Regions from separate parts of the Homo sapiens genome. Here all the other regions are reported to be linked to region 3. Evidence: microRNA targets listed by miRTarBase, many of them from high-throughput screens and not tested one by one. Region 3 holds a microRNA gene; each other region holds the end of a gene's coding sequence.

What was found. The annotated mature microRNA hsa-miR-6797-3p reads UGCAUGACCCUUCCCUCCCCAC and lies in region 3 at 1,779-1,800, opposite strand. An mRNA with a match to its seed (bases 2 to 7 or 8) in the 3' UTR can be bound and repressed. Matches are read on the target gene's strand: a 7mer-m8 pairs with bases 2 to 8, a 7mer-A1 pairs with bases 2 to 7 and ends in A, and an 8mer does both.
Region 1: miRTarBase lists UBQLN1 as a target of hsa-miR-6797-3p. Seed matches in the 3' UTR shown: 7mer-A1 at 3,230-3,236.
Region 2: miRTarBase lists PGAP4 as a target of hsa-miR-6797-3p. Seed matches in the 3' UTR shown: 7mer-A1 at 1,086-1,092.
Region 4: the mRNA of TNPO1 is a reported target of hsa-miR-6797-3p. The part of its 3' UTR that is shown has no 7-base or 8-base seed match.

The regions. Positions count from the first base shown.
Region 1 is chr9:83,657,565-83,662,983 of GRCh38, forward strand. UBQLN1 (ubiquilin 1) reads right to left here. Exons shown (of 11, transcript NM_013438.5): 11 at 2,404-4,375. The coding sequence ends at 4,223. Among named protein-coding and RNA genes, the nearest start is that of IDNK, 37 kb to the left of the region's middle.
Region 2 is chr9:101,471,314-101,476,732 of GRCh38, reverse strand. It overlaps PGAP4 (post-GPI attachment to proteins GalNAc transferase 4), which reads left to right. Exons shown (of 2, transcript NM_032342.3): 2 at 1-3,563. The coding sequence ends at 852. The region is part of intron 1 of TMEM246-AS1 (TMEM246 antisense RNA 1); the gene reads right to left. Among named protein-coding and RNA genes, the nearest start is that of TMEM246-AS1, 5.6 kb to the right of the region's middle.
Region 3 is chr19:41,866,056-41,871,474 of GRCh38, reverse strand. MIR6797 (microRNA 6797) reads right to left here and starts at 1,848; the gene lies at 1,777-1,848. It overlaps RPS19 (ribosomal protein S19), which reads right to left. Exons shown (of 6, transcript NM_001022.4): 4 at 2,261-2,444; 5 at 1,722-1,776; 6 at 1-124. The coding sequence ends at 98. RefSeq lists an enhancer at 1,442-2,000 and a silencer at 4,973-5,032.
Region 4 is chr5:72,903,265-72,908,678 of GRCh38, forward strand. It overlaps TNPO1 (transportin 1), which reads left to right. Exons shown (of 25, transcript NM_002270.4): 23 at 445-519; 24 at 2,039-2,181. The coding sequence ends at 2,146. Among named protein-coding and RNA genes, the nearest start is that of MIR4804, 27 kb to the left of the region's middle.

The DNA of each region.
Region 1 (5,419 bases), not on the chromosome of region 3:
TGTTTTCACCCTGGTTCCTGTAGTGCAGTGGTTTTCATTAGTTGTTTCATTAGTTGTTCAACCTAGGAACTTGTTAGACATGCAAATTCTTCCCCAACTCCATAACTATTAATCACAAACTCTGGGGGTGGGTCATAAAGATTTGTGTATTACCAAGTCCTCCATGTCAAACACCTGAACCACCCCATCTCTCTCCTATTTCCTACCCTGCTTTTCCCCCTTGTTCATCTTGCCCACCCACACTGGATTCCTTGTGTTCTACAAACATACTGAGAAAGAAACAGAAGTTTTTATCTGAGGAATGCAAACCCCTTTAAATTATCAGGCTCAGAGAGGCATTTAAAATGTGACATCAGTCACGTCTCATTCCCTCTTGAGCTAAATAATTACCTCTTGAAGCAAATGACTATGTGGGCTCTGGAATGACACCAAGTAGCCATTAAGATGTCATATAGTAGACATCATAACTTTTACCCTATGTTCAACAGCGTACAGCCAATGGCTAATCAATATTATCTCTGGAAACCAATGAGAATACCTGTCAAAACTTTTATCAGCCCACTCCTTGTTCCCCTTTGCCTTTAAAAACCTGCTTGTACCAAACAGAGTACTCCCCAAGGCAACCTGAAATGGGTCCCTGGCAGCTGTTCTCACTTTGGCTCAAGTAAACTCTTTCGAAATTATATTTTGTGCCTCAGCTTCTTCCCTTTAGGTTGACATACACTCAAGGACACTATTTCAGGGCCTTTTAATTAGTTGTCCTTCTTCCTGGAAAAGTTGTTCACCCCTCCAGATACTCAAGTCTCTGTTCAAATGTCACCTCCTCAATGAGCTGAGGCTTTCTCTGACAACCTTATATAAAATAAGAACGCCACCTTCCTGACCTGGTCTCCCCACTATGCAGCATTTTTCACCAAAGCACTGATTACCTGGCAGGCAATCTGTATGTTTTCCTATCTCCCTACATTCTACTATGTAAACCCCATGTGGACACAATCTTGTTTTATTTGCTGCTATACTCTGAGCAACTGGAAAAGAACCTGGCACTCAGTAGATGTTCAATAATTTGACTTTCTGACATAATAGTTGCCTATGAGAAAAGATACAGAGAAGTTGAAGAGGAACAACTGATGTTACTTAGGTAATTGCCAAGACAATTTTAGAGCAGAAAAATAAAAAACAAAACAAAATGCTACAAGGTGAATGGGGGGAGCAAAATGCAGCAATTGACAGTAAAGACTAAGTATGAACAGTTAAGAGTTTCCCAAACACTGGATCAGCAAAGTTTAGGACGCCTTCAGAACTGAGCCCAGAAAGAATGGTAGGGTTTATAGGAGCCAAAGTAGATAAATACCATGTGCGACACCAGAGAAGGGTAGATACACGAAGTATAGGAAGGGTGTTCATTGTATACAGCATCACCTTAAAGAATAGTTAAAAGATGGTCTAGTGAGACTGGAAAAAGCTGATAAAACTTTAAATAGACTTCTTTCATGCAAGACTTCCTGTTAATTGTAATATAATATTAATCTCTATGAGAAGAAGTACAATATGCAGTATTTCCCTGCATTAATCACAGAGTCATTTTTTTTTGTTAATCATGTGTATGTCATTGCACACACGGCTTAGCTTCACTTTTGTCACTAGCATATTGTTATCCATTGTTATATTTTGTTGTGATATATGCCTATTAAATTAACATAGTAAGAATAAAAGACTCTTTTCATTATTATATTTAAACCAAGTCTGAAACTCAAGATTCTAAATACACACAGAGGCCAGGTGTCATTTATCTGATTTTTCAATATTTGCTAGACTTTGTTTAGGATATCGCAAATATTATAACTGGGAAATAAAATCCTGAAATGCTATTTTCACTACCCCATTCTTTATTCAATTTGTACTAAATATTATCACTCAATATGAGAACAATTTAAGCCTACAGTATTTTAAACATCCTTTAAGTGCTGATAAGAATTTTAAGTATTTTGAACCCCTTAAGATGTAGATATTTATCTTTAGACTTAGACCTAAATAAACATATTAAAAACAAAAACCATACCACTGCAGTAGCTTAAAGGTACTTCAGAGCTTATCGCCCAGTCCAGCACACCTATAAGCCTCACCACCACATGTATAATAAAGAAACCATGACGCCTCAATGTCACATAACTAGTCAAGTACCAAGATCAAAAGTGGAGCTCAAGTCACCTACCTTCCCAGTGTGCTATCTTTTTATCACACCACAAAAGACTGTGACGTTTTAATTGGAAAACCTGAAAAATAAAGAATGTAAAATGTGACAAAATCTGGGGTAAATCAACTCCAATAGCCTTTAAAACACATGGTTAGCAAAAGTTAAAGACTTTTTTTCTTTCTACAAAAGAGGCAAGACAAATCAAGTGTAAAAGCTAGAGATTTATTGTTATTTTATGATTAATAAATTGTCAAATTAGTTATGACACTATCCCACACTGAATACCACCATTTGCCAGTACAGAAGTTTTTAAACCAAACTGAGGCATAAAGCAGAAAGAGCAAAGACACATGAATACCCTTCTTAACAATCTCTTCTACTTATGCCTCCACCGTAACCTTTGTACTTGTTTTCCTCCTGGGGAAAGTGTCAGAACAGTGCAAGGACTGGTGGGTAACCTGGCCTCTTAACCTTTTTAATAGCAAGCAACATACAGAAGTAATGCAATCAACTTGTATTTCCCTTGATTTTATTGGTCTGAATTCATTTTAGGTTACTTTAACATTTTAATTTCCTGTAACTGTACATGAGAGAATATAATCACCTAAGAGAATACTGAACCAGAGTCAGCCAAATGTATCACTGACCCTCAATTATGTTTTAATTGGTCCTAAAGGAATGTACCACCCCAACAGTTTGGGAGTTAGGCAAACAGAATTCTTTGGGGGAGGGAAGAAAAAGGCTATAAAACAGCCAAATGTACTCAACATCATTAAAACGGCTCTTTGTTTTTCACCCCTGAATGATACTTCTTTACTACACTATATGCACAGAAATCCTAACAGAATCTTGGTTGCCAGTATTATTTAAGCTGGCCCCATCCAGGACAGATTCCGCTGCCCCACCCCCCCACCCCGTCCCCCTTTCTCTGAGGCTCTGAAAAGCACAATATTTAACTATTTCTTAATAGAACTACCAAAACACTTCAGAAACAATTGGCTCACAACTCATTTTAAATTTGTGTATTGCCTGTGCATGAGAAAACAGATAAACCCAAAAGATAGTTCTATTTTTTTATGGCGATTAAAAATAACTGAAACATCAAGACACTTTTTCAGTGAAAGCAACATTTCAATTACAAATTTTAATGCCTGTTAAACTACCTATGGGAGAAGCTGAGAAGTCCTAGGCAAATGCACTTTGGGGTATACTACAGTGTTCCTTCAGTCTGCACAAAGATTAAGGTAATTTACAGTCAATCTGTGAATGAATGTTGAGACAATGTTACATTATGTGTCTGTACAATTAATTGTCCTTAAAGAGATAACCAGAATCAGCTTTTCTACTGTATTTTCAACAAACCTGACTAACCGGCACTTTTGCTGGGAGATGTTTGTCAAAGATGCTGTAAGATTCTATACAATTAGGAAATACTCAGCTTTAAGAGTATTTTCTTATCTTCACTTTTTTAGTTACAGGTGTTTTGCTCAGAGAGCCTATTGCAGTATGTTTCCAGAAATGCAGTCCCAAATGTGCATACTCTATATTGTATACAAATAAAACAAAATTATCAGTAGTATAAATCTTACAGCATTGTTTGCAAAAATGCATGCCAAAGTCACAATAAGCAATACTGTACCACAAATTATAGAGTGCAAATGATTTGCTTCTTTTTAATGCTTTTATTCTACATAAATTACTACCATAGGCTAATGTTTAAAAAGCAAATAAACTGGACAGATGCAGGACAAAATCTGGTCACCCAACTATAAAAGGTGATGTTTTTAAAAAATTACAATAAATGCAGAAGTGATGCATGCAGTAGCCTTAATTCCCACTGTTCCAGAAAAGAAAAATACAGAAAAACCCACACATCTTACTGTACTCCACCTTAAAATGCATCATATTGGGTTTGTTTATAACAGCACAGAATTCCAAGAGTCAAAATGAAATAAAGCAGGTATTTTAAAGTTTAAGAGCCGTTATCAAAAATAAATTACATTTTTTCAAGATACAGAAATGCTGCTATGATGGCTGGGAGCCCAGTAACCTTTCAATAGCTGCATTGATATCACCTCCTGTTGCTATTAGAGCTTGCAAGTTTGCTTCACGGTTCAAAAATCCCATTGCACTGAGTTGTTCCAGTTGTTGCTGAAATCTGACTTCTGGATTCTGTAGCTATTAAAGAAAAAAAAAATTAATCCAACTCTAAAGGAAGCCAGTCCCTGCCACACATGACTTTTAAAATTTTTTAATTGCTTTTTTATAACATATGCTGATCTACTGAGCTTTAAAAACACTGCCCACCTCTTGAAACTTATCCAACATATTTAAAAGTCCATTAGCAGTTTATTTTAAATAGTCTAGTTTGTACCTAAATAATCATGTCAAATAGATCACGACTCTACTTTAGGGGAGGGGGAGAAAAGCTTAATAAACATCAACCATTATTTTAGAGGATCACGTACATGCAGAAAAACCTGTATGTGTGTGTGTATATACATATACATATACACACACACACACACACACACACACACACACACACACACAGATAGTTCAGAATTAGATGATTTGTGTAGCTACTGACCAATTGAGTAACTATAAAAGCTGGTATCCTCATGTATAAAATTCTAAAGCTTCAATGATTCTTCGAATGAATGTGAGTTTAATTTTTGCACTGGACAGTCAATTCTTAGAAAAGAGCTTCAGTTTCAGGCCCAAAATTATACTCTTAATTCTGACATTTCAGCAGCATCAAATCTTTTCTTCAGAAATGAAGTTAAAAAAAAAAATCTCCATATAAATGACCAATCAATCCTAGGCCTACCTGATAATTTGGAGGCTTGTAAGTTAACTTATGTCACAATTAATTCTAATACTCCAAATCCTTCTTTCTTATTTATTCCATGAATATTTACTGAGTACCTACCAAGAGCCAGAAACTATGCTACGCTAGCTTATCAGGAATACAGATATGTATGAGACAGAACCCTACCCTATTTATTATATTTAGTAAGGCTTGAAAACAGAAAGCAGGCCAGGCTCACGCCTGTAATCCCAGCACTTTGGGAGGCCAAGGCGGGTGAGATCGCTTGAGCTCAGGAGTTTGAGACCAACCTGGGCAACACGGTTGAAACCCCAGCTCTACAAAAAATACAAAAATTAGCCAGGTGTGGTGGTCTGCGCCTGTAATCCCAGCTACTCCAGAGGCTAAGGTGG
Region 2 (5,419 bases), not on the chromosome of region 3:
GTTGTGTCCCAGTTCCACCGGCTTCTTCAGCAATGTGGCCCCCAGTGCGAGGGGCACCAACTCTTCCTGTGCAACGTGGAGCGTAGTGTGAGCCATTTTGATGCCAAGTTGCTCTCCAAGTATGTCCCTGTGGCCAATCGCTATGAGGGCACTGAGGATGATTATGGTGATGACCCTTCGACCAACTCGTTTGAGAAAGAGAAGCAGGACTATGTCTATTGCCTGGAGTCATCCCTGCAGACCTACAACCCAGACTACGTCCTGATGGTAGAAGACGATGCTGTACCAGAAGAGCAGATCTTCCCAGTCTTGGAGCACCTTCTGCGGGCTCGCTTCTCTGAGCCACATCTCAGAGATGCCCTTTATCTCAAGCTGTATCACCCCGAGAGGCTCCAGCACTACATCAATCCAGAGCCCATGCGGATCCTGGAATGGGTTGGTGTAGGCATGTTGCTGGGGCCCTTACTAACCTGGATATACATGAGGTTTGCCAGCCGCCCAGGGTTTAGCTGGCCTGTAATGCTCTTCTTCTCCCTGTATAGCATGGGTCTGGTGGAGCTGGTGGGTCGGCACTATTTCCTGGAACTGCGGCGGCTGAGTCCTTCCCTGTACAGTGTGGTTCCTGCCTCTCAGTGTTGCACCCCAGCCATGCTCTTCCCGGCACCTGCGGCCCGCCGGACCCTCACCTACCTGTCCCAAGTGTACTGCCACAAGGGCTTTGGCAAGGACATGGCACTGTACTCGCTGTTGAGGGCCAAGGGAGAGAGGGCCTATGTAGTGGAGCCGAACCTCGTGAAACACATCGGGCTCTTCTCCAGTCTCCGGTACAACTTTCATCCCAGTCTCCTCTAGGGTGCCAAGAGATGCCTTTCTGAAGTTGGCCACTTCTTGAAGATTCAAATATTTATCTCTTTATTTAGACATGGTTGCCTGCAGGTATTTCACTGTTTACTGTTGTTAGAGATATAGGCACTGGGGCAGCTGAGGAACCTCAATATGTTAAGAGCCTTGGCTTTGGTAGCCTCCTGGCAGGAGCAGCAGTTTGCCACAGGTCCGGACCTCTCCCTCCACACAGCCACACTGCCTCATGCAGTCTGACCCACCCAGTGAGGGTGCATTTGAACACTGATTATATTCTCCATTTGTTTTTAAGCTCTGCTTTGTGTTAGAGCTTGTGACTGCCAAAAATTTTGTGCACAGTGATATGACTGTTTTAGGATCTTAAGGGTAGAATTTTGTGAAAGGTGAGATCCTTTGGAATTGAGTTCTTTCTCATTGGGTATGAAAATGGATGTATGTTTAGAATATATGCCCAACGAGGCAGGACCATGTGGATAGATTCCATTTGTTTCCTTGACCTGATGTAATAAAAACTGATAAAAGCCGTGCAGTGCCCGGCATCTTGGAGGCAGGTGATCTGGCTTTTCTGTTACCTGGGATTTTCTTTTCCTATATATCTGTAGTGCACTGATAATTGATATTGTTAGTGAGAACTTTAAGGCACGACAAGATCTGGAAGAGCTTGTGAACCATCAAAGTCAGATTGCTTATGTTGAGTAGTGATTTAACATTGAACATTTCTGTACTACTCTGACTCTTTGAAAATTGGACATTTCAGAATGATACAATATAGGGGAGCTCTTTACAAGTAGCATATCATTTTTCCTGACTTTCCTGGCTGACTGCTTACCTTCATTTCTTTTTCTTCTAGGTAGCATGATGTTATAGAAAAAAAAAAAAAAAAATCATGGACTGAAGTCAGAAGACCTGACCTTTTATTTCAGATCTCTGCCATGGCCTAACGACGTGACCACCTTGGGCAGGTCATATAATCACTCTGGGTCTCAATTTCTTCACCTGTAAAATGAGGACAGTAATACTTACATGTTAAAGTTGCCTTGAGGATTAAATGGCAGAATATATGTAAAACACCTAGCAAGTGCTTAGTCCATAGAAGACGCTTGGCAAACTTTTCTCTCCTATAATAAACATATACAACTCAAGCTTATTTCGGAAAAAGATATTGGTGATGTTGTTTAAAGTATGAGATAGGGCATGGAGCTGCCACCTATGTACCAGCTATTCCAGATGACCAAGCCCTGCTAGAATAAAGACTGACTTTTCATTGTGACCTCTGAAGGATGTGCAGCTCAGCTTTCACCTATCCCCACGTTCACCCAAGCCAAAAAGAAGAATTGTTCATTCAAACTGGAAATGATCTCCAGCTTGGAAATGAGACTCCTCATGAGCTTATTCTAAGATCAGAGTCTGAAAATTATTTTCTCAAAAGTTACAAATAAATGTCTTTTAACAGTACTGTCAGACTAGTGACCAACAAGTTACTTTATGAGGATGGATGATGATATTAGAGTTCAAGCAATTGTCCAGTTTGTTTCGATGCCACAGTTTGCTTTTAAATTCCCATAGTGAGCTTCCATCTTGAGACCCACTCAACACAGAAGGATTACATAAAGGTTGATCACCCACGCTCTACAGATGAACAAATTGAGACCCAGAGATGCTAAACTGCTCTGCAGGTCACAAACCTGAACAGCAGCATAGCCAAAATGGGAACGGAGCTCTTCTGACTTCAAGCCCCTGCACTTTTTTCTTAACCACATTAATTTTATGAATATCTATGTGGTCAAAGTCTCTTTTGTAAAATCTGAGTATAAGCTGAACTAGATCATGTCTCTGTAAGCTAAGATGGCAGAAACACATTGTCATGTTAGTTTGGAGGAGCAAACAGATATAAGTATGTGTTGTAATGTTATAGTGAGCTGTTATGTATCCCCCAGCAATGTCCAAAGTGATCAGAGCTACTAGATGACTTATTACAATGTTCAGATCCCACTCCTTCATTCCTCCTCTCTCAGTGACCTGTCTACCCCCAAGCTTTAGAACTGAGCTCTCTCCAACTTAGAACTCATTAGAGTTTGTTGCATTAGTGATTGGATCTCCTCATGAAAGTTTTTTGACCAATGACAGTAGAGCCCCTTTAAGCTAGCCAGGCCCAAGATAGGGAAGCACTGCTGGTTTACATTTCTGCTCTTTCTAATTCAGTTGTCTATTGCATGCAGACATCCCCTGCCCGACTTCTCCATTATGGAAGGCTAAGGCCATCCTTCCTTGTCCAGTTTCTCTACCTACACACTAACATGCCTTTTCCCCATGGAGTGAACTCTGCCAGTTGTCTTTGGACATTTTCTGCAGATGCAGGCTCAGTTCTGCTCTTTTGTTCCCACCCACTTCTAGATCTTCCTCCATTTAATCCCTTATTCTTATAAGGAGTCTAATTTTTGTGTATTGTCCTTGATTAGGGCAGCTGACAGCTTTACACCAAAGCTGAAGTCTCTCACTTAATCCTAAGCAAGGGGCTAGGGAGAACTAAGATATCCTTCCCATATCAAGGGATATAGGTTACTAGAAGGGTGGAGGTCTCTTAACAGGCTCACTCACCTTTCAGAGTTTAAATTATGGTCAGGCTTAAGAAGCTCTCTCTTGTGACTGAGTGTATTGCATAGACATGTCTGTGAAAATAAAAGCACCCATTTTGCTAAGGCTTTCTGAGAAGACTTTTATCATTCTCTGTCTTTCCTTTTCATGAATGGATTTTTCTGATGTGGCAAATAGTATGGGCTCCCTGCGCCCACACACAGTTTTGTAGTCCCAAGGGAGCCATTCAGAAGTATTGGCTGCTGCCTGCACAAGCAACCATGGCCACAGATCCCTGGGTCACAGCAATGTCAGAGCATTTATCCATCTTTTTCTGGGTAAAAAAAGTGGGGGTCACTGCTACCACCCAGATCATCTTACCTCTCACTGGTATACCCCTGGTACAATGTGGTGATCATTCCTTCACTCTTTCCTGCCTCTTGCCCTAAAAGTCTTAGAATAAGTTGCAGAGCTGCCATGGGTGGTATTCCTGTCTAGTGCTCCATTGGCCACCCCAAGAACATGCAGCAACACCTGTAGGCTGAAAGAGAAAACCCAGCCTTCCCCTGAGAGAAACACGCAGAGATCCCTCACACCCATCCTCCCCCCACTCCCAACACACACACTGAAAACAAAACCACTAACAACAACAAAGTAAAAAACAGCTGTGTGTAGTGATGGAAAGACTTCCTCTTAGCACTTGCCATTCCCTCTGCTTGGAATGCATGTAAAAAACTTTTTTATAGGGGCTAAAATTGTACACTATAACCAATTCTCAGTCCCTAGACCCCATTCTTTGTTCCTCTTCTTCCTGATTTTCTTCCCTAGTCCATTTCTTTTTGTCCAGTATTCCTTTTGTTCATAGGCAGTTCCACTGTGAGTCCTGTACTCTTTCTCATTCATTCATGGCTCACTGTGTGTCATGTTCTATTCTAGGTGTTGGGGATATAGCAGTGAACGAAACAGAAGACCCCTGACACTGAGGAGCTCATGTTCTATGGGGAAGGTGAAGTGGAAAAAAACTCAAAAGAATAAATAAGGGAATTTCAAGAGGTTTGAAGGAAATCTAACTAGGTAATGTGATTGCGGGACCTAGGGATAGGGAAGGGCATAGACTGCTTTAGATAGGATGGGAAATCTCTTAGGGGAGATTAAAATTGAACTAAGACCTGAATTACATGGAAAAATTTAGTCAAAGGAAAAGCATTCCAGAGAGAGAGCATGGCAGTGCAAAGCCTTGCAGAAAGAACCAGTGTAGAAAGTCCAAGGATGAAAGAAAGCCAGTGTAGCTAGAGCCTGAAGAATGAGGATGGGAGTGGAAGATGTGAAGGTAAGTTTGCAGGGGCCAGATCATATCAGGCCTGGAAGATGATATAGCTGTTTAAAGTTTATTCTAAATGCAATGAGAAGCCAGCTCCTAGCAAGATAATAAATTGCTTTTCCAGAACGTTAACTGTCCATTATTTAGTTCCTTTGCATTCTCCATAGGCTGGTCTTATAAAGGTTCTGTGACAGTAGGGAATCCATTAAAGATCTATTACATAAGGGAATGTGGGACATGCAAAAGCAGAAGACAAATGTAGAAACCCTCTGCTTCACTTGGCATTTCTGTCCTTCATCTTTCTGATATTTTAAAGCTACTGTGTTCCTACATACATATGCTATCTGTTCCTTCATTCTTTTTGATAAATTCATCATTTGCCTTTACATTTTCATCGTTTTTACCCCCAAATGGTTAATGTAGGTGTTTTTTTTTTTTTTGGAATCATTTTATTCTTTCGTATTTCTGTGTCAGTCGCTAGGAGAAAGACCAGGAAAATCTGTTAAACTCTAAACCAAAAATTCCCATTCACTGCAGAGTGATGATTCGCAACACTGCTGCAATTCAGGTAGTGGGGTGTCCTGAAGTGACAACACATCACCACTGCAGTCCTAATAAATTAAGTCTTTTTGTTTTGTTTTGTTTTGTTTTTTGGTCTGCTAG
Region 3 (5,419 bases):
ACTGCACTCCAGCCTGGGCGACAGAGCAAGAGACTCAAAAAAGAGACCCAGACCAGGATTACGAATGAGGCAATTTATTAACCCAGCATGGTTTGTTCTAATGCTTCTTGTTGGCAGCTGCCACCTGTGGGAAAAGATGGAAGAATAAAAGTTAGTCAAGGGGGTCTCTGCTGGGGCACTTTGTAACAGCTACCTAACTACCCACCACAGGTGGGCACCCCGATTTGTGGTTTCAAATGCATCTATCTCATCTAATTCTCACTGTGGGTATTCCCCCATTTCACAGACGTGGAAACTGAGTCTCAAGGGAGTGGCCAGGCACAGTGGCTCACACCTTTAATCCCAGCACTCTGGAAGGCCGAGGCAGGTGGATCACCTGAGGTCAAGAGTTCGAGACCAGCCTGACCAATATGGTGAAACCCTGTCTCTACTAAAAATATAAAAACTAGCCAGGTGTGGTGGTGTGTGCCTGTAGTCCCAGCTACTCGGGAAGCTGAGATAGGAGAATTGCTTGAACCCAGGTGGCAGAGGTTGCAGTGAGCTGACATTGCACCACTGCACTCCAGCCTGGGCGACAGAGCAAGACTCTGTCTCAAAAAAAAAAAAAAAAAAAAAAAAAAAAAAAGGAAGGGAGTGGCGGAGTGGAGTCCAAATTCCGCCCACTGCCATGTGAGAAGGCCAACATCCAACCACCAGCAATGATGTGTGCGCCAAGCCCCACTCTGCCTGGAAGAGCTTTCTCCTTCCAGACCACCCCCAACTCCTAGAGGGCTGACACTTTCCATTCTTTTGTGACACTTGACTGACTAAATGCTCCAAGGCTCCTAGGAGGCCTGAGTCAGTGATACAGAATTGAGCTCATGCCAGGCCCTGGGTGCTCCTGCTGTACTATAGCTCACTGACTCCTCACTACCATGCTTGAGGTGGCCAAGGGTAGATTTTGGCCACAGGGAGGCCAAGACAGGAGACTGTGGCACCAGGGGTGTGGCCACTCTGCCCCAGGGTGTTGGCCAGCCAGGATCTGAATGGAGACCTGGGTTCTGAACCAGCCCCCCTCCCTTATCTCCACCTCTCCCAAGCAGCCCATGTGATGCTCAGTACGCATGAGGACTAAGGGGAAACATCGCAGGCTGACCTGGGGAGGGGGAGTCATCTACGGGTACAGCTATGTGCTCTGTGGATAGATGCCCAGTGGCACCTGGGCTGGAGTTCCCTCCAATTTTTTTTTTTTTGAGATGGAGTTTCACTCTTGTTGCCCAGGCTGGGGTGCAATGGCATGATCTTGGCTCACCGCAGCCTCCACCTCCCGGGTTCAAGTGATTTTTGTGCCTCAGCCTCCCCAGTAGCTGAGATTACAGGAATGTGCCACCACACCCGGCTAATTTTGTATTTTTAGTAGAGACAGGGTTTCTCCATGTTGGTCAGAATGGTCTTGAACTCCTGACCTCAGATAATTCGCCTGCCTCGGCATCCCAAAGTGCTGGGATTACAGGGGTGAGACACCACAGCCAGCCTGCCTCCAAATTTCTAAGCAGCACCAACAGGAAAAGTCAGACAGGACTGTCCTTTCTCCTGTCTCTGGGCAGCCCTCCTCTGACCCCACCAGCACCCTGGGCTGTGCCCTCCAGAGAAGGAAATAAGTCTACCTGACAAAGTATGGGCTTTGGAAATGCTTGGGCAGCGACTAAGGGACCCAGCCCCACCCCAAACGCAGGCCTTACCTGTCCGGCGATTCTGTCCAGATCTCTTTGTCCCTGAGGTGTCAGTTTGCGGCCGCTGTGGGGAGGGAAGGGTCATGCAGGCCCCAGTGAGCACAGGTCCTGTTCTCAGCCCCTTCCCTCCTGGCTGTGAGCCAGGCTTCTCAAAAAGCCACCTGCCGCCAGCCAAGTCCCACTGAGGGCCCTAGTCAGGTGCATTCTAACGAGCTGGGGGCAGTAGTGGGAGCCCCCCTGGGAGCTGACGGGGTGTTGTTTGTGCAAGCATTTAGATCAAAAGCCCCGAAAAATCAATTGGGAAAAGTTAACGAGCAGGCTAATGAAAGCAGATAGTCGCTAAATTACCCTCCTGGAGCCTGGGCTAGTCAGCCAGAGAGGTCGGGGTGAGGCCCCGTGCTGTTTGCTTTTCTGCAGAATCCCCTCCTGCCTGCCTCTGATAGGAGGGGCCTGAGGGGCTGGGCAGACTATGCAGGACCATTCGTTGGGGAATTGATGACCGGGCCTCAAGGCTACTCCATCAATGCAGCCCCCTCTACCCTGCTTACCCATCTTGGTCCTTTTCCACCATTTTCAGCCCCTCCAGGGCTTGGAGGACCCGGCGGGCCACACTCTTGGAGCCTCGGCTGAAGTGGCTGGGCATGACGCCGTTTCTCTGACGTCCCCCATAGATCTTGGTCATGGAGCCAACCCCAGCGCCACCCCGGAGGTACAGGTGCCGCGCTGTGGAAGCTGGGGGTAGTGTGAGAGGGAGATTTAAGGGTCTTGATCAAGGTCTCAGGTAAACAATTCCTTGTGTGTAAACAGCTAATTCTCACTGTTTTATAAGAAGGGAAACTGAAAACACACACTAACACCCAGAAACTGACAGCCCCCTCTCCTCACCCACCCCCCCGGCTAGCTCTTCCTTGACAAACAGCCCTGCACCCTGGGTGGGCACTCCCACCATCTCCAGGGCCAACTTCTTTAGTGGTTACTATCCCAGCAGCACTGCTGTTGAATTGAACCTGAGGTTATGTAGGGGTGGAGCCTAGCTGTGACCATCTCCATGGGCCCCAGAGAAGCAGGAGTGAAGGGACCTATTGCCACTCTCCGGGCCACCTCAGTCTGGAGAGCTCAGGATAACAAGGGCAGGGCAGACACTCTGTGCAGTGGGTGCCCCCTGCTTGGAATGTGTACCAGCCCCTCTGCAGACACAGGGAAGGCTGGCTTGGGCAAGTCCCTGGTCCACCCCAGCCAGCCTCCTTGCCTGCAAAAAAAGCTCCGTAAAATCCAGTCGACACACCAGCCTCCCCAGAAACGCTTGCACGCTTCTATTAACTGGAGCACACATCTGCCAGGCCCTGTGCCAAATGCTTTTCGATCTCTCCACCCTTCTTCACCTGAGGGCCGGGTTACTCTGAGGACTCAACAGGTGTGTCAAGTGCTACTCTCCTTTAAAGAGTGAAACTGAGGTGCCAGAGGGTACTCACTGGCTCCGTGTCACACAGCTCTGGAGGAACTGCCCTGTCCTGCCACTGTGATGGCACCGGGGCCCACATGCAGGAAGCACCCAGATTTCAGCCATCACATGGTCCTGCCTAGCTCTGGAGCTCAGAGCAGAGTCTGGTTTGTTCCTGGGACCCAGAGATCAGCAAGTTGGTCTGAGTCTGCTCTAGTGATTTCTTTCCTCTAGTTCTAAAGATCAAGTGGGGGAATTGGGGGTTCTTCCATAACTGCCAAGTGCCAGGCAGTAGTCTGTGTGGGGTGGGCTGCTTCTGCCCAGAAACAGTTCTTACACACCGCTTGTTCCCAGCCCACTCCTGCCCTGAGATCAGGTCCAGATACAGCCAGCCCTTCATATCCACAGACTCAACCAAGGGTGGATCAAAAATATTTAGGGGAAAAAAACTACAATTCAAAACAGTGTAACAATTATTTACACCGTATTAGTGCTTTTTCTTTTTTCTTAAAACACAAAAAAAGGGCCTCATTCTGTCACCCAGGCTGGGGTGCTGTGGTGTGATCATAGCTCACTGCAGCCTCGAACTCCTGGGCTTAAGCAATCCTCTTGCCTCAGCCTCCTAAGTAGCTGGGACTATAAGTATGTGCCATGTCTGGCCTGTATTAATCTATAAGTAATCTACAGATGATTTAAAATATATGGGATCAGGCCGGGCGCAGTGGCTCACGCCTGTAATCCCACCACTTTGGGAGGCTGAGGCGGGAGAATCACCTGAGGTCAGGAGTTTGAGACCAGCCTGGCCAACATGGTGAAACCCCATCTCTACTGAAATTACAAGAAAATTAGCCAGGTGTGGTGGCACACCCGCTGTAACCCCAGCTACCTGGGAGGCTGAGGCAGGGCAGGAGAATCACTTGAACCTGGGAGGCAGAGGTTGCAGTTAGCCAAGATCATGCCACTGCACTCCAGACTGGGTGACAGAGTGAGACTCTGTCTCAAAAGTAAAACATCTACATAGGATATATGCAAATATTATACTTTTTTTTTTTTTTGGAGACAGGGCATCATTCTGTCACCCAGGCTGGAGTGCAGTGGTAACAGCTCACTGCAGCTTTGACCTCCTGAATAGTTGGGACTACAGGTGCAAGCCACCACGCCCAGATAATTTCTGAAGAGACCCGGTTTTGCCATGTTGCTCTGGCTGAACTCCTGGAGTGAAGTGAACCACCCATCTTGGCCTCCCAAAGTGCTGGGATTACAGGTGTGTGCCACTGTGCTGGCCCCGATATTTTTTTTTTCTGAGATGGAGTCTCTCGCTCTGTCGCCCAGGCTGGAGTGCAGTGGCGCAATCTCGGTTCACTGCAAGCTCTGCCTTCCGGGTTCACTCCATTCTCCTGCCTCAGCCTCCAGAGTAGCTGGGACTACAGGGGCCCGCCACCACGCCTGGCTAATTTTTTTGTATTTTTAGTAGAGACGGGGTTTCACCGTGTTAGCGAGGATGGTCTCAATCTCCTGACCTCGTAATCCACCTGCCTTGGCCTCCCAAAGTGCTGGGATTACAGGGTTGAGCCACCGCACCCGGCCCCTGGCCCCGATATTACACCATTTTATAGTAAGGGTGAGCATCTGTGGACTTGGGTATTGGGGTTCATCCTGGAACCAATCCTCAGCTGATACTATACAACCATGCTCTGCTGGGGGCCAAGAGCACAGCCCTGCTGTTGGCTCACTACCTCTGGCATCTGCTCACTTTAAAATCCCCACCTCACTCCAGGCCCTACCCCCTACGCCACTGCCTGGTAATAAGTGCCCATAACCAGGACCAATAGACAGACTCACCTGGCGTAAGCCACCCCCCACAATCCTGCCAGAGAGTGACATCACTGGAAACCTCCACCCTTTCAGACCAGCTCAAATACCCAGCAGCTGCTGCCATCCCTCTGGGCCCTGTAGCTGGTTGTGCCCTGGGGCTCTGGGTGGAGACCTGCTCTCCCATTTGAACTACAGTACCCAGGACTGGGGAACGCAGAATAGCTTTTCCTGTTATCCTGCTTTATTTTTTTTTTGAGACGGAGTCTTTCTCTGTTGCCTAGGTTGGAGTGCAGTGGTGCCATCTGGGCTCACTGCTAGCTCCGCCTCCCAGGTTCAAGCAATTCTCCTGTCTCAGCCTCCCGAGTAGCTGGGACTACAGGCACACGCCACCACACCTGGCTAATGTTTTGTATTTTTAGTAGAGATGGGGTTTCACCATGCTGGCCAGGCT
Region 4 (5,414 bases), not on the chromosome of region 3:
TAATTTCTCTATTTCAAATCAAGGTCATTTAATATATATTTAGCTAGCTTTAATTTCTTTCTAGGCCAGTCAAAACTGTAAGATCATTGGTTTTATGTTTTTCTTTAATCCGGTAAATGAAAGAGTATTTTTATGGGTGTCGATTTGGTGCTTTCAGTTCATTTCTGATGCTGAACATTTATTGCACAGGGGGTTATTTTGTTGTGTGATGCAGGACATTAAAGTCCAGTATAAACTGAATGAGTTGAGGTTCCTTGACTGTGGGCTAATAGGGACAGCCATTAAGGTAATCTCTTCTAATTCCTTATGATCATAGTTAATTTTTAAATGTTTCCTTTTTTAAGCTAGATTCTATTGTGACATAAACTCTGAGGTTTACATATATCTTTTGCTGAGTTTGACAAATACAATATCAACCTAAGATGTATTTCTTGCTTGTTACAGGATTTTATATTTTTTTGTGATGCCGTTGCATCATGGATTAACCCAAAAGATGATCTCAGAGACATGTTCTGTAAGGTAACTAATAAGTCTTTATAATGCATCATCTTGAGACTGTTAATATCCTAGTGGAAAACTTTAAATTATGTTTACATTTTTTGTGAAAGTTAGGCTCTTCAAGTCAGTATTGATAGTTTACATATATAACCTTTATTCTTGGTAACAAAGTTGGCTTGATCTTTTCTTAAAATACAGCAGTGACTCTTATCTGTAGAGGATGCACTTTGAAAGTATTTTCCCAAGTGTACCACTAGTTTAGGTGGTCCCATTATTCCATTTAAGGAAAATAGTATATGTTTTTCAAGATGGAAATGGAGACTTGGAGTATAATCTGAAAAAGAGTAAATCTAAATGGCTGCCACAGGAGTAAGCCCATGTCATTATTTGCTTTGTTAATACCCTCTTTTGATTAACTCGTCAGTACTCAACCACAGTAAAAAATAAAATGCAGTTACACATTTGAATCACCCAAGATTAAAGTTAGTGAACTATAGTTTGTCGTGAACTCAAAGCTTGTGTATTTGCAGTTTGAAAAAATACGACATAAAAATTGTATTGCTTGGATGACTTCTCTACTTTATCTTTTCGTTAGTATGGTATCAGAGATTGCTTAGAGTATATCTGTTACTGGAACACTTGCCAAAGTCTAAACTTCTCAAAGCAGAGTTTAAGCATATGCTATGAGGTACTTTTAGGCAAGGCACGTGTATTAGTCCATATTCACGCTGCTGATAAAGATATGCCCAAGGGCCGGGCTCAGTGGCTCACACTTGTAATCCCAGCACTTTGGGAGGCCGAGGCAGGTGGATCACCTGAGGTCAGGAGTTCAAGACCAGCCTGGCCAACATGGTGAAACGCCATCTCTACTAAAAATACAAAAAATTAGCTAGGGGTGGTGGCGGATGCCTGTAATCCCAGCTACTCAGGAGGCTGAGGCAGGAGAATCGCTTGAACCCAGGAAGTGGAGGTTGCAGTGAGCCAAGATCATGCCGTTGCACTCCAGCATGAGCAATAAGAGTGAAACTCTGTCCCCGCCACACACACAAAAAGATATGCCCAAGACTGGGTAATTTACAAAAGAAAGAGGTTTAATTCGACTCACAGTTCCATGTGGTTGGGGAGGCCTCACTGTCATGGTGGAAGGTGAAAGACAAGTCTTAAATCGCAGCAGGCAAGAAAGAGAATGAGAATCAAGTGAAACGGGTTTCCCCTTATCAAACCGTCAGATCTCATGAGACTTATTCACTACCACCAGAAGAGTATAGGAAAAACTACCCCTATGATTCAGTTATCTCCCACTGGGTCCCTCCCACAACACGTGGGAATTATGGGAGTACAATTCAAGATGAGATTTGGGTGGGGACACAGAGCCAGACCATATTAGCAGGGAATGGTGTAGAATCCTACGAAGTTTGAGAATTGCTACTTTAAAATGGATAAAATTTATAAAAAAATCAGCTGTGTTGGATTTCAGAAGCTATGCTGATCTGAATTTTTCTCTTGTTATTGATAAATTAATGGTTTTTCACTCTTACAGATCCTTCATGGATTTAAAAATCAAGTTGGCGATGAAAATTGGAGGCGTTTCTCTGACCAGTTTCCTCTTCCCTTAAAAGAGCGTCTTGCAGCTTTTTATGGTGTTTAATCTAATACACTTAAGCTGCAGTCCCAAAATTAGGGGTAAGTTATAAGAAGTTTGGAAATTTTCAGGATGAAGAAAATTTTGTTAGGGCTGTCATTTCAAACTACTAAATAGAATAAAAAGCTATTTGTTTTCTATAGAGGTTGAATAAAACATAGCCTCATATCATTCTATCTTGGGCTTTAAATTTAAAATTACTTAAGTGGGCCAGGTGTGGTGGCTCATGTCTGTAATCCCAGCACTTGGGGAGGCCAAGGTGGGCAGGTCATTTGAGGTCAGGAGTTTGAAACCAGCCTGGCCAACATGGTGAAAACCCATCTCTACTAAAAATACAAAAATTAGCCACGTGTGGTGGGACGTGCTTTTGTAGTCCCTGCTACTCAGGAGGCTGAGGTGGGAATATTGTTTGAACCTGGGAGATGGGGGTTGCAGTGAGCCAAGATCTTGCCAGTGCACTCCAGCCTAGGGGACAGAGCAAGACTCCATCTCAAATAAATAGAAAATAAAATTACTCAAGTGAAGGCTAAAGAAATTTTCTTAATAGAACCAACAAGCCCAGAAAAACGATTAGCTCCAGTTTGAATCGTAGGTATAAAGAAATCCACGTTGGTACACTGGTTGGATTTCTCAACATTGCTTCAACTATTCCTTTTTTCTTTCTTTTTTCCTGCAAGAAGACATCGGCACTCATAGTGATGGGGTAAAATTGATTTCATTTTGGAGCATGAATTTATAGTCTCTGCTGTAACAAGGACTTTTCATTTCACGTGCTTTGAAAGAAAACTCAGTTGGGTTTTGGCCCACTGTTTTTGTTTTTCACTGTATGTTTCACTGAGTACCTACCATGTGCCCATCACTTTTTTTTTTCTTTTTTTTTTTTTTTTTTTTTTTTTTTTTTTTTTTTTTGAGACAGAGACTCTTTCGCCCAGGCTGGAGTGCAGTGGCGCAATCTGAGTTCACTGTAATCTCCGCCTCTTGGGTTCAAGCAATTCTCCTGCCCGAGCCTCCCAAGTAGCTGGCATTACAGGCACATGCCACCATGCCTGGCTAATTTTTGTATTTTTAGTAGAGATGGGGTTTCACCATGTTGGCCGGGCTGGTCTCGAACTCCTGACCTTGTGATGCACCCACCTCGGCCTCCCAAAGTGCTGGGATTTACAGGCGTAAGCCACTGAGCCCAGTGCCTAGGACTATATTTTAAAATAAGCAATGAAAGATTCTGTTTTAATTTGGGATGGACTATATTCATTTGGACTCTTGCTCCTTGAGCTCTTCTGTACTTAAATGGGACTAGCAGTTCTCATCTCTGAGCTTCGGTTTTGTCATTGAGTTATGTTGAGGATTAAATACTATACTGTATGTGATGCCAGAACTTAGTATGTTGCCTGGCACACTAAGTTGACTCAGTAAAGGTTAGGAACTGGGCCAGTACAATAAATATCAGGGTTTTGACATTCATCTTTAGATTTTCAACATGAATTAAGACATATCTGACTGGAAGCCAGAAGATGTGCTGAATGAGCATGTACAGAAGATGTACACCAAGTTGAATTACACTTTAGATTGAATTGGAGGAGTTTTTTTGGCTTGCTTGCTTGCTTGTTTACTCCAAGCTAAAATTTAAATCTGGAAAGATTTCACCATCCAAGCTGTCTAACCTAGAAGGTAGTAGAAATGGACTCAAAGCTTCCAGAATGTGTCAGAGCCCTTCATATGTGTTGTCCTACTTCAGTCTTGAGTCCTCAAGAGCTGTTTTCCAAAATGGCTTTGGCATTTTGGAAAAGTGCTGGATTCACCTTATGTTAAATTATGAGAATGCAAAAGATGAGAATGACTTGTAGCTTCAAAGCTTCAATGAGCTACTAACAAGTCTTGAGCACTTTCAGATTTATTACCTCTGTGGTCTCATCACCAATCATGAATTAACTGTTCTAAGACAAGGTATGAAATAGTTCTCGGTTTTGTAATTAGAGCTAAAAGTAGATCAGTATCTTTTATTCCTGCCTTTTTGTACTCCTCTTCCTTTTCTTCAGAGGCAGGAGAAAAGGGATTGCTTATATTTCTACACAGATGGATTAACTGCCCTCTGTGAATTCACATGAACGTTCATAAATGGCCAAAACTTGGCATGATTGGGTAGTAGAGTTCTGTTTGTAAAAGGACCACTATCAGGTAACAGTTTAAATCTCCCAGTAATCTTACCTTATTTCTTAATATCCTTTTTATCATTAAAACTGTTTAGCATAGAAAAAAGTTCCTACCAGAAAAACCAAGTGACTGGAAGATAGTGGAAATGACCAAGTGAAATAGGATCAGAATGGGAACTAATTAGGAACATCAAGAAGGCAAGTGTAGGCAGGGTGTGATGGCCCACATCTATAATCCTAGCATTTTGGGAGGCTGAGGTGGGAGCATTGCTTGAGCCCAGGAGTTTGAGACCTGCCTGGGCAACATGATGAGATCTCCATCTCTATGAAAAAAATTAAAAAGAAAAAAATGAGCTGGGCATGGTGGTATGTACCTATGGTCCCAGCTACTCAGGAGACTGGGCAGGAGGATTGCTTGAGCCCAGGAGGTTGGGGCTTCAGTGAGCCATATTCACACCACTGCGTTCCAGCCTGGGTGACAGAGCAAGGTGCTATCTCCAAAATAAATAAATAAATGTTAAATTTGCTTTTTTCTCTCTCTCTTTTTTTATGTAGAATTTGTTTGTTGATACTTACTGAATGTAGTGACCCTGCTGTGGTAATGAACACTTCTAGTGCCTTCTAGGCTTAAAATACCAGACAACCCCAAATAACAAATGCTCTTTTGTGTTTTGATAGGTTGGATTTCTGTTTGCTTAATATTGGGAATACTGGGGGAAAAAAAGATGGTGTTTTCATTCTAAGGATTGTCCTAAAGAAAGTGCTACTTTATTTTTAAGAAAGTAAGGCCACTTGTTATATAAGAAATAACAAGTTCCCATTGGGTCCCATTTTGCAAAAGGGGATAAAGAATTAGACTGATAGCATCATACGAGGCATATTTCACTATACAAAGTGTTGTACACCTGTCTATACAACTCTCCTACCCAGCTTGACCTCACTTTTCATACCTGATGCAGCAAACAATTCAGTGCCATAGGAGAAGGAAGCAGCATGGTTATAAGTGACTAACACGATATTAGGCAATTTGTCCAAATTTCTCATTTTCTTTATAGGTAAAGATAGCATTCTTATTTGATTAATTTTTTGTTCCACTGGCTTTGAAAGACAAACGATTGTTAAAG